3 linked regions of the Homo sapiens genome follow. The protein of the gene in region 1 interacts with the protein of each later gene in a pairwise test. Each region holds a gene or a part of one and is shown in the gene's direction. Other genes may lie near its edges. The genes, in order: DKKL1, FJX1 and C11orf71.

Region 1 (3,647 bases):
TGAAGGCCAAAGAACGTGCCAAGGAAAAAGTTCCCATGGAGGATACCCTGGTGGAAGACCTTGGAAACGAAAGCTCAGATAAGGATGCCTCACTGGACTTGAAGGTTGACAAACGCATGAAAGAAAAAGTTCCCACAGAGGATACCCTGGTGAAAGACCTTGCCAATGAAAGCTCAGATGAGGACGCTCTACTGGATTGAAGGCTGATGAATTCACCAAGGAAAAGTTCCCACGGAGGATACCCTGGTGGAAGACCTTGCCAACAAAAGCTCAGATGGGGATGTTTTGCTAAATTTAAAGGCTGACAAATGAGCCAAGGAAAAAGTTCCCATGGAGGATACCCTGGTGGAAGACCTCACCAACGAAAGCTCACATGAGGATGCTCCACTGGATCTGAATGCCGACAAATGTGCCAAGGAAAAAGTTCCCATAGATAATCCAGTGAAAGAATTTGCCAACAACATCAAGGAAAAGGAGGCCCCATGTAATGTGAAGGCACCCTAGGGAGTCCAGGTAAATGATTTCAAGGATGACCTGGCGGGGATGGTGATCAGTGAAAAGTCCCCAGAAGCAGCCCTATCTCTTCACAGGGCAAAATGAGATGCCAAGAAAAAAGATTGCTTCGCCATTCTTGTAGCAGAGCTTCCTGAAGAGATGTCCTCAGGGCAAGTGCTGGCCGTTGTCACCGTGAAAGGCATCAAGAAAAATGGTGGCTCTGAGGACAGCTTTTCTAAAACCAGTAATGACAAAGACTCTTCCTGTAGTGGAGACACTCAAGCTTCTGGAGCAGATATGGAAGAGTCCAATCATGCAGATGACCATCAGCATATGCCAACAAGTACTCTCCCAGCACCTGCAGAAAAAACAATAGAGACAAAGCCTGAAAAGGCAGAAGAAATGTAACCCAGTGAGTTCAAGGAGGATGAGGATGCTGAAGAGCCTGACCTGACCTGTTGTGACCTTTGTTTTTTATGCTAGAAGTCCCTACAGATTTTTTGAACACCTGGAAGGGCCGGGTCACAAGACCTCACCCTGGCCCAGCAACCATCTGGACCGTGAGAGTTTTGGGGATTTTGCTACTCTCTCTGGACTTTTACATTCTCTTAATTTTTTAAAAAATATTCTTTCTTTAACCTGTTTTAAGATGCAAGCTGTCATTGCGTCATCATAGTTACATTTTATTACTCAAATAATTTTTCAATTGTTTTACTAGTTTTTTTTGGATCTTTGTCCACTGGTTTTAGAGTTTTTGTAATTTTGATAAATGATCTTTTATGCTTTGTATCATTTTCTTAATGACTTACCTTAGTTTTTAACAAATCCATGGTACAGTAAGTTATATTAAGACATAGTATTTTTATGTTTTTTTAAATTATACTTTGGGTTCTGGGGTACATGTGCAGACATGCAGTTTTGTTGCATAGGTGCATGTACCATGGTGGTTTGCTGTACCCATCAGCCCGTCACCTGCATTGGGTGTTTCTCCTGATGCTATCCCTCCCCTGACCCCCCACCCCCCACCGACAGGTCCTGGTGTGTGATGTTTCCCTTCCTGTGTCCATGTGTTCTCATTGTTCAGCTCCCACTTGAGTGATAACATGCAGTATTTTGTTTTCTACTCTTGTGTTGGTTTGCTGAGAATGATGGTTTCCAGCTTCATCCATGTCCCTGCAAAGGACATTAACTCATCCTTTTCTGTGGCCGAATAGTATTCCATGGTGTATATGTGCCATGTTTTCTTTATCTAGTCTATCACTGATGGACAATTGGGTTGGTTCCAATTCTTTGCTATTGTGAATAGTGCCATAATAAACATGCATGTGCCTGTGTCTTTATGGTAAAAAAAAATAGTATAATAAATATCCCTATAGTCTCTTTTCCATAAACCAAAATTTCTTAAGGTTGGCATCATTGGCATGTGGGGCTGGATAATCTTTATTGTGGGAGCTGCCCTGTGCACTGTAGGATATTTGATAACATCCCTGGGCTCTATCCACTAGAGAGAAGTTGCCTCCTGCCAGGCACAGTGGCTCATACCCGTAGTCCCAGCACTTTGGGAGGCAGAGACGGGCGGATCATGAGGTCAGGAGTTCGAGACCAGCCTGGCTAACGTAGCGAAACCCCGTCTACTAAAAATACAAAATATGGGGCCAGGCACAGTGGCTCACACCTGTAATCCCAGCACTTTGGGAGACCGAGGCAGGCAGATCATGAGATCAGGATATCAAGACCATCCTGGCTAATGCGGTGAAATCCCGTCTCTAGTAAAAATACAAAAAAATTAGCCAGGCATGGTGGCAGGCGCCTGTAGTCCCAGCTACTCAGAAGGCTGAGGCAGGAGAATGGCGTGAACCCGGGAGGTGGAGCTTGCAGTGAGCCGAGATCGTGCCACTGCACTCCAGCCTGGGCGACAGAGCGAGACTCCGTCTCAAAAAAAAAAAAAAAATACAAAGTATGGCCAGGAGTGGTGGCTTACACCTATAATCCCAGCACTTTGGGAGGCCGAGGCGGGCAGATCACCTGAGGTCAGGAGTTCGAGACCACCCTGACCAACATGGAGAAACCCCGTCTCTACTAAAAATACAAAATTAGCCGGGCATGGTGGCACATGTCTGTAATCCCAGCTACTCAGGAGGCTGAAGCAGGAAAATCGTTTGAACCCAGAAGGTGGAGGTCGCGGTGAGCGAAGATAGCACCATTGCACTACAGCCTGGGCAACAAGAGCGAAACTCCATCTCAAAAAATAAATAAATAAATAGGCTGGGCATGGTGGCTCACGCCTGTAATCCCAGCACTTTGGGAGGCCAAGGCAGGTGGATCACCTGAGGTCAGGAGGTTGAGACCAACCTGGCCAACATGGTGAAACCCCGTCTCTACTAAAAATGCAAAAATTAGCTGGCATGGTGCCATGCCCCTGTAATCCCAGCTACTCTGGAGGCTGTGGTGGGAGAATCGCTTGAACCCAGGAGGCAGAGGCTGCAGTGAGCCGAGATTGTGCCACTGCACTCCAGCCTGGGCTACAGAGTGAGACTCCATCTCAAAAAAAAAAAAAAAAGAACACAGTCATGTTGGATTAGGGCCCAACCTAATGACCTCATCTTCACCAATTATATCTTCAATGACCCTAGTTCCAAATAAGGCCACATTCTGAGGTATTACAGGTTAGAATTTCAAAATATGAATTTGGGGAGGAAACAATATGGTTGTTTGTTCGTTTGTTTTTTAAGCCTGGGTCTTGCTCTGTTGCCCAGGCTAGAGTGCAATGGCACAATCTTGACTCACTGCAGCCTCTGCCTCCCAGGTTCAAGTGATTCTCCTGCCTTAGCCTCCCAAGTAGCTGGGATTACATGAGCGCGCCAGCACGCCCAGCTAATTTTCATATTTTTAGTAGAGACAGGATTTTGTCATGCTGTCCAGGATGGTCTCAAACTCCTGACCTCAAGTGATCTGCCCACCTCAGCCTCGCAAAGTGCTGGATTACACACATGAGCCACCGCGTCCAGCCAGGAGGAAACAATTTAACACATAACAATCTCCTGCGCGGCTTCTCAGACCTCATCTTACTAAAAGGCAGACTGATTCAGCAGGTCTGAGTGGGGTGGGACCTATTAATTTGCATACCTAACAACAGCAGCCCACCCTTTGAA
Region 2 (4,329 bases), on another chromosome or scaffold:
CCCCATGTGCACCTGATGGGAAGATGAAAGGAGAGAAAAGATACACACCATGTAAGGAAACAGATTTCAAACTCTGGCCTTTGAGAGGTGGATTCCACCATGCCCCTGATCTTGTGTCTACCCTGGGAATCTCAGTGTGGATCTGGGACTCATTCTGATACAGAGAGGTAAGGGAGGGCCGACTGGCATCCAAGTTTTCCTGGTAAATGTAACCCAGAGGTGGCTGGAAGATGTGTTGGGGTGAAGAGGTTGTTCATTTTGTTTTCTTTGCTCCTTCACCACCTCCCTCCCCCACCACCACCACCATTTCTTTTTCCCTTAAATCGTAAAAGCAGTAAATCAAATGCAGTATGGGATTGAGGTTTTTTTCCTTTCCATTTGAAAAATCCTTTTAATTGAAAAATCACATTTGGGGAACAAAGTGGTCAAATGACAGTGAATTTCAAACTTGAGAATGCTGACTTGATTAAAAAAAAAATACTGATCTTTCTTAATGGAGGGAAAATCAAGTGCATGCGGCCAGGAGACCTGAGTTTGACTTTTAGCTTCGCCCCTTGCTAATTGTGCAATCCTGAGCAACACCCATCCCTTCTCTGTGCCTCAGTTTCCTCATGGACAAAACGGTATCATTTCTTTCGAAAAGTCGTCCCTGACTCCCCTCTCCCCAACACGAGGTTGGATGGCTATAATCTCTCTTAGCAACCTGAGAGTCCCACTGGAATGTAAATTTCAGCAGCACTGGGACCCGGATCTGTGGATTTTGCTTCTGGTAAGCAGAACCAGAACTGAGGGGCAGTCGCTGTGTTGAATGGATGCATGAATGAATGGGAGATGGCCTAGGTGTTCAAGGGGCACGTGCACAGCGAGGCTTCATTCCCTGGGAGTCCGTTGGGAAAGGCAGAGCGGCCAATACTGATTGGTGCTGATGTGCGAGCTCGGAAAAGGGAGTGTCGGTTCAAAGTTGTTGGCTACAGCGGGTTCCTCTTTCCGCTGGAATCACATCCTCTGTGGCTCGGAGACATTCCCAGAGATTTACATAAAGCAGCGTGAATCACCCAGACAGAAACTGAGAAAGCAAAGGGACCCTGCCTGATCCTAGCCTGGCGGAGCTCGGAAAGAGGTGGAAATCTGTCTGAAGTTTGCAGGAGACCCGCGCTGCCTAGGCAAAGGGACCCGGCGACCAAGACACCCCCGCGAGGGCCCAGGGCGCGTCCCTCCCGCCAGGCCCCAGACTCCGGCTCTGCGCCACCCCCTCCTACGCCCCGGCGCGGGCGCAGCCAGTCCGGCTTCCTCCAGGCCCCCAAGTCCCGGACCGAGTGTGGGGCCGCCTCTCCCTCTCGGAAGGAGCCATCGCCGCTTTAAGTGGAAGAGGAGAGGAAGGGGGCGGGGGAGCGGGGGGCGGGGAGCGGAGGCGGAGGAGGGGGAGGGGGATCCCCCTGGCTCCCACGTGGTCCGGGCGCCTGTGAATCGCGCCCACCGGAGGGTCTCACAGCGAAATACAAAAGCAGCTGGGAAGCGGCGGGGACTCGAGTTCCCAGCGCCGGGCGGAGCGCCGGACAGAGCCCCGCAGCGCCCCGCGGCCGCGATGGGGCCGAAGCGCCCGAAGCCCCGGAGCCCACAAACTGCCGGGCCCGCCTCGCCGCCGGGACCCGGGTGCCTGGGCTCGGCTTGAAGCGGCGGCGGCGCACCGGCACAGCCGCGGGAGCATGGGCAGGAGGATGCGGGGCGCCGCCGCCACCGCGGGGCTCTGGCTGCTGGCGCTGGGCTCGCTGCTGGCGCTGTGGGGAGGGCTCCTGCCGCCGCGGACCGAGCTGCCCGCCTCCCGGCCGCCCGAAGACCGACTCCCACGGCGCCCGGCCCGGAGCGGCGGCCCCGCGCCCGCGCCTCGCTTCCCTCTGCCCCCGCCCCTGGCGTGGGACGCCCGCGGCGGCTCCCTGAAAACTTTCCGGGCGCTGCTCACCCTGGCGGCCGGCGCGGACGGCCCGCCCCGGCAGTCCCGGAGCGAGCCCAGGTGGCACGTGTCAGCCAGGCAGCCCCGGCCGGAGGAGAGCGCCGCGGTGCACGGGGGCGTCTTCTGGAGCCGCGGCCTGGAGGAGCAGGTGCCCCCGGGCTTTTCGGAGGCCCAGGCGGCGGCGTGGCTGGAGGCGGCTCGCGGCGCCCGGATGGTGGCCCTGGAGCGCGGGGGTTGCGGGCGCAGCTCCAACCGACTGGCCCGTTTTGCCGACGGCACCCGCGCCTGCGTGCGCTACGGCATCAACCCGGAGCAGATTCAGGGCGAGGCCCTGTCTTACTATCTGGCGCGCCTGCTGGGCCTCCAGCGCCACGTGCCGCCGCTGGCACTGGCTCGGGTGGAGGCTCGGGGCGCGCAGTGGGCGCAGGTGCAGGAGGAGCTGCGCGCTGCGCACTGGACCGAGGGCAGCGTGGTGAGCCTGACACGCTGGCTGCCCAACCTCACGGACGTGGTGGTGCCCGCGCCCTGGCGCTCGGAGGACGGCCGTCTGCGCCCCCTCCGGGATGCCGGGGGTGAGCTGGCCAACCTCAGCCAGGCGGAGCTGGTGGACCTAGTACAATGGACCGACTTAATCCTTTTCGACTACCTGACGGCCAACTTCGACCGGCTCGTAAGCAACCTCTTCAGCCTGCAGTGGGACCCGCGCGTCATGCAGCGTGCCACCAGCAACCTGCACCGCGGTCCGGGCGGGGCGCTGGTCTTTCTGGACAATGAGGCGGGCTTGGTGCACGGCTACCGGGTAGCAGGCATGTGGGACAAGTATAACGAGCCGCTGTTGCAGTCAGTGTGCGTGTTCCGCGAGCGGACCGCGCGGCGCGTCCTGGAGCTGCACCGCGGACAGGACGCCGCGGCCCGGCTGCTGCGCCTCTACCGGCGCCACGAGCCTCGCTTCCCCGAGCTGGCCGCCCTTGCAGACCCCCACGCTCAGCTGCTACAGCGCCGCCTCGACTTCCTCGCCAAGCACATTTTGCACTGTAAGGCCAAGTACGGCCGCCGGTCTGGGACTTAGTGTCACCGGGAGGAAAAGAGAGAGATCTGGGGCTGGGGTATGGATGATGGGGGGAAGGGCGGTCGCCTCTGCCACTGTCAGGGACCAGCCGGCCAACGCCCACCCGCAAAGGTGTCTAAAAACTTCAGCTTTTCACCCACCTGCCCCTTTCTTTCAATCCCACGCTGTTTCCTTTCAAAGTTCTGGGAGGACGAACTCACCGAGGCGAGAAGTGTAACATTCTCTCCACCCAGCTTATAAAAGGATTCTTTACTGTGCCAGCACGGGGATTGGATCCGAAGAAACTGGCTACTGGGGTTTGGCCCCCGAGTGGCCGTCCCTGTGGGAGATGCACCCCATTCTTGGGCCCCCCCTCATTCCCTTTCCGAAAAAGGAAAACTTGCGTTTGAGCCGTTGAGCTAATTCTGCAATTTTCTACCAAACAGAGCGCTGGTGGCCCCGGAGCAGGGCTGTGACATTGGCTGGTGGAGCCCCCTTCCTGTGTTCTCCCTTTGTTCCAGCGCCGCGATGGTGAGATCACTGTTCCAAGCAGGGGGACGGCTCGCGATAGGACAAAGAGAGCAGGACCTCCAGACTCTGGGGAGCCCTGCAGACCTTGACAATTTGCCTGACTCATTCCTGACCTCTTGTCATTTTGGCCTGAAGGCTACAAATTCAGGGTCAGCTGTATGCACTAAGTCAAATAATGAATTTCTTCCTCCCTCTCGCAACCGACCAAAATTTTGACAACGATGATGTTCACCAGAAGGAAAAAAAAAAATCAGTTTTATGCACTTTATTTTGTTTTGATTTTCATTTTTTATTAAGAAAAAATTTTATTTTACAGAATTTACCTTCTCTGTATATATGTGCATAAAGTGTGGTGTAAATATACTAAACAAACTTATATTTCAATAAAAGGGAGTTTAAAATTTATAATTTAATTCCTGTGGTTTTAACTTGTTTGATGTTTCTGATGCCCCATCTGCTTTCAGAATAAGATTTAGGTTTTCTTTCTTGTGGATGTGTTTTTAAAACAAAGGATGCATATCCATTCCAGTTGTGACTACGGAACTTACAGAATTGAACAAAGATAAGAGCAGACTCCCTGTCCTCACTCAGATGAACCTTGGTGCTGGAAATTTGAGTTTAGCCTAAAATGTGGGGGAAGATGGGGAGAGAGATGGGAGGAAAGTGTTCTATTTCCTGGCAAATAAAACTTCGATGTGAAAGGATTTCACTGTAGTATATTCCTATATTAATCATTTGGCAAATATGATAGAATCAGATGTGGGGACTAAAATATGACAAACACCCCCTTTTTAAACTT
Region 3 (4,022 bases), on another chromosome or scaffold:
AAAAACAGCAGGAAACAATGCCCCCCGAACCTCATTGGGCAGTTACCTGATCTAAATTGAATTTTGATAGGCCTTCCATAAAGTTTGATTCCATTAAGTAGATTCATTGCATAAGGAACAGACACTTCATGTTTGAAATTCACAAACGCAAACTGCTTTGGTTTACCATCCTTATCTTTTGGAATTTTCACCTTTATTACTGGCCCAGCCTACAAACAAAAAGGTGTTTAGAATTTAAATAAAGCAACTAAGGGAAAATACTCAAATTTTACAAATAAGATATGACAAAGTTTAAAAACAACAGAAACGTAATCAGAAACTTCTTTTGAAAATGATGCACGGATTTCCATTTTGGCTACAGTAAACATCCTAGTTATGACTGAACATTAGATTTATTTGGGGAAGGGGGCCCATAAGGAACTGGAAACACAATCACTTTTGCAATTCACAGCACTGTATGGCTTAACATAGTGACCAATCGCCATTATTTTGCCACTCCATGAAAATGAACATTTATCAAGAACAAGAGAATGATTTTCTTTAACTAAAAACGGACTTTTGTATTGATTAATCAAACAATACCAGTTATTAGGGGATAGGGATGGGGGGAATAGGATACTCAGAATTTTTCACACTTTTTAATACAGCAACACTAAAATGCTGTTTTTCTACGGAGTACTTAACCATTTTATTTTACATATTTTAATAATGCTGCAATTTGATAAGCAAACTTTAGGGGAAAACAGACACAAATAAATTAAAATATTAAGTTCCCAGTCAGATAAACCAAAGACAAATTATCCTAAGGGGAAGATGACAACAGGAAGGATAAGAAAAAGCACTGCTCAACGAAGACCCTACACACACACTGTGTTCCCAAGGACCCCTGGATCTCTACCACGGGAAACCTGATCGAGGATCCCTCCACCACCTTTAGTCGTCACTTTCGGCCTAAACGAACCAAGATCTTCCAGGAAAGCGACACCCAGCGAGCGTTTCGCAACCCAGACCCGCCTTTCACCCCCAAACAGCCACCCGTCGGGTCCCCTGACGGCTACGAAAAGAAAACGGGGTGGCCGCTGGCCAGGCCCTAGGCGAGACGGAAAACGAAAGGCAAAGGGCCGAACCCAGCCGCTTACCTGGTGGAAAAGCTCGAAAAGGAGCTCCTCGGTCACTTTCGTTTCAAGGTTGCCCACAAAGAGAGTGCGATCCGCTTCCGCCGCCGCCGCCCCCATCTCAGCGTCGCCCCCTCCCTAACCTGGCCAAAAGGTCGTGGCCGACGCACCCACTGCGCATTCACGGAAGCCCCACGTCCTCACGCTCCCTGGCGTCACAAACGAAAACGCCCGTTGCGCTTGCTCTCAGCGGGCGACGACGTGCGCGGACGGTCTGCGCATGCTCGCCAGGATACCCCTCGTTAAAGGCAAGGCGGCTTCTGGCTCTTCCGCAGGCTCAGTTATGGGTTCCTGTGTGCTTAGTCATCGGGTCCGACACAGGCTGGACTGATCTGGGGAGCCGCGAAGGGCCTGCCTTCACAAAGGGACGTAACGCAAGTACTGCGGGCAGTGTTTGAATATGGCCCTGAACAATGTGTCCCTGTCCTCCGGTGATCAGAGGAGCAGGGTGGCCTACCGCTCTTCCCATGGCGACCTCAGACCGCGGGCGTCAGCGTTGGCGATGGTCTCCGGAGACGGCTTCCTCGTTTCCAGGCCTGAAGCGATTCATCTAGGACCTCGGCAGGCGGTGCGACCAAGCGTTCGGGCCGAGAGCCGTCGAGTGGATGGTGGCGGCCGGAGCCCAAGGGAACCAGATGGCCGGGGCCGGAGCCGCCAAGCCAGATTCTCACCTTACCCAATCCCTGCCGTTGAACCCGATCTCCTAAGAAGTGTGCTGCAACAGCGTTTGATTGCATTAGGAGGTGTTATCGCAGCTCGAATTTCAGTTTAAACGAACACCTTTCCTCTGGCCCTCACTTAGCTTGTGAACAGGCCTTTTTAAAATCCTTTCTTGGTGTAGCAGCAATCGTGTTGTTTTATTTTTAGATGGATGTATTTTCATTTAATACGTGGGAGTTATATGAATATGTCCTAGCACTAAGGGAAGTGTAACAGTTGATTGATTTAGGTGGTTTTATGCAGCCAGAACGATTGGATCAGGAAAGGTGTGGAAGGGATATTCTTAGGTCGTCACAAAGCTGAGCTGATGGGAGCACCCTCCCCAGAGGTCAACAATCCATTCGTTAACTCAGACACTTAACCTTTACCTTTACTTCTGTTGGCGAAAAAGAAGTGCTCCTTTTTATTACACTGATTTATCCTTCCATCTTTTCCTTGGCATTTACCATCTTCCATCTCCCCCTTCACTTTTTTCAGATATGTCTACAAACAGACTCCAATCTCAGTCGCACTAAAAATAAGAACAAAACCTAAACCTTACAGTTCTTTCAAATTATTAAATCAATTTATTATTCCTTTCTTTGGCAAAGGTTCCAAATTTTTACTTTATATTTGTAATTTTACTATTTGCATTCAGTCCCAGCGCATTAATCTGAATCTGCTGTCCTAAAATACACTGGTGAAAACATTACTTGTACAATCTCCTATCAGAAAACTGTTCATCTACTCACTGTAGTGCCCTCCTTGAAATGTGTGTTTGTTCATTCAACTAACAATATTTGGGGATCCCTGTAGTAAACACTGTATGAATTTTACACAGTCTGGCCATCAAGAAAGATCACGGAGTATATTCTAGATGGGGAGGCTACTAAGTGAATAGGAATCACCACGCTGGGCTGTTTATTAGGTACAGTAATAAACATAAGTACTGGTTGCAGTGACTTTTTTTTTTTTTTTTTCATCATAATACTGCACTATCCTGGTTCTTCTCTTACCTGGCTGATCACTCCTTATTTGCTGTTATTTTTGTTCTCTTAACCATACATTTCCCAATGTTTAAAGGGTGGTATTTTGAGAAAGTTAATGGGTTTTGTAAGTGCCAGCTCTTTATATAAGCAGGTAGACTAGCTTTTTCCCAGCAGACGCTTGTCTGTTTAGACTTCCTTAAAATAATTATCTTCAAATAAAGCAAAATCTCCATACACCACATAGTATTGAATTGTTATAACTACGTGTTAAGAAGAATGTTGAGTAAACAAGATAGCTTCCATAAGAGGGTGATTAATATAGTGAGAATTCTAGAAACCAGATCATAGGAAGAATGATTGAAAGAATAGTAATAGCTACCTTTTATTGAGTGCTATGTGCAAGTCAGTGTGCTAGGACTTCTATTGTTTATAGAGATATTTATTGAGAACTTACTCTGTACCTGCTACTGCCTGCGGTAAGCACTTAGAATAAAGTGGTGAACATGATAAAAGTATGTGTTCCTAAGGAACTTTATATGTTATTTGATTCTCACAGCAGCCCATAAGAGGGGTACTCTACTTTCATTTTGTTACTGAAAAACAGCGTGAAGGAGATAAACTTTCCAAGGTCATATAGCTAGTAAATGATAGAGCCCTGCAGCCTTTCAAATGAGGTTCCTCATCTGAATGCAAAAAAAATGACTTGAGTAACTATTTTCTCAATTTTCCCAAGGATAATATATAACTAATTTTTTTTCAGATAACTAAAAAGAAGTTAGTTTGTAATATACAATGGATGGCTTAATCTGGGCATTACAAAAACCCGTGGTTGAGAAAGGAATTCCAAACTATAAACAGAGTGTTAGACTGGGGAAGAAGAATAAAATTAAAGCTGAAGATAAAGAAGCCTTTCTTAAAACTTAGAGATGCCTAGTAGTGGAAAATACCACCTCAAAAGGTAATGAATTAGCTGCCAGAAAGTTCAGAGAGGCTGAATCTTGTGAAGGATTTTGTCAAAGGAATCCTCATAGTGCGAAATATGACTAGATGACTTCTTCATTTTTTCCCATTTAGTATATAATCCTATGCTTTAAAAAATAAACTCGGTTAAAGTTGAAATGGGGAGTTGGGGGATGAGGAGAGAAAAATTAGGTATGAC

Evidence for each region.
Region 2: the proteins of DKKL1 (region 1) and FJX1 interact in a two-hybrid assay, tested with the Homo sapiens proteins (one large-scale study listed by BioGRID and IntAct).
Region 3: the proteins of DKKL1 (region 1) and C11orf71 interact in a two-hybrid assay, tested with the Homo sapiens proteins (one large-scale study listed by BioGRID and IntAct).

What each region holds. Positions count from the first base shown.
Region 1 is NC_000019.10:49,370,264-49,373,910, forward strand, and holds part of DKKL1 (dickkopf-like protein 1 isoform 1 precursor), read left to right. Parts: exon of another isoform or gene 1-880; intron 881-3,647. UniProt on the Homo sapiens protein: Involved in fertilization by facilitating sperm penetration of the zona pellucida. May promote spermatocyte apoptosis, thereby limiting sperm production. In adults, may reduce testosterone synthesis in Leydig cells.
Region 2 is NC_000011.10:35,616,931-35,621,259, forward strand, and holds FJX1 (four-jointed box protein 1), read left to right. Parts: upstream 1-1,529; 5' UTR 1,530-1,706; coding exon 1,707-3,020; 3' UTR 3,021-3,935; downstream 3,936-4,329. UniProt on the Homo sapiens protein: Acts as an inhibitor of dendrite extension and branching.
Region 3 is NC_000011.10:114,397,885-114,401,906, reverse strand, and holds C11orf71 (uncharacterized protein C11orf71), read left to right. Parts: upstream 1-1,395; 5' UTR 1,396-1,575; coding exon 1,576-1,947; 3' UTR 1,948-3,375; downstream 3,376-4,022. Other genes in the region: RBM7 (RNA-binding protein 7), read right to left, coding at 47-209, 1,140-1,235.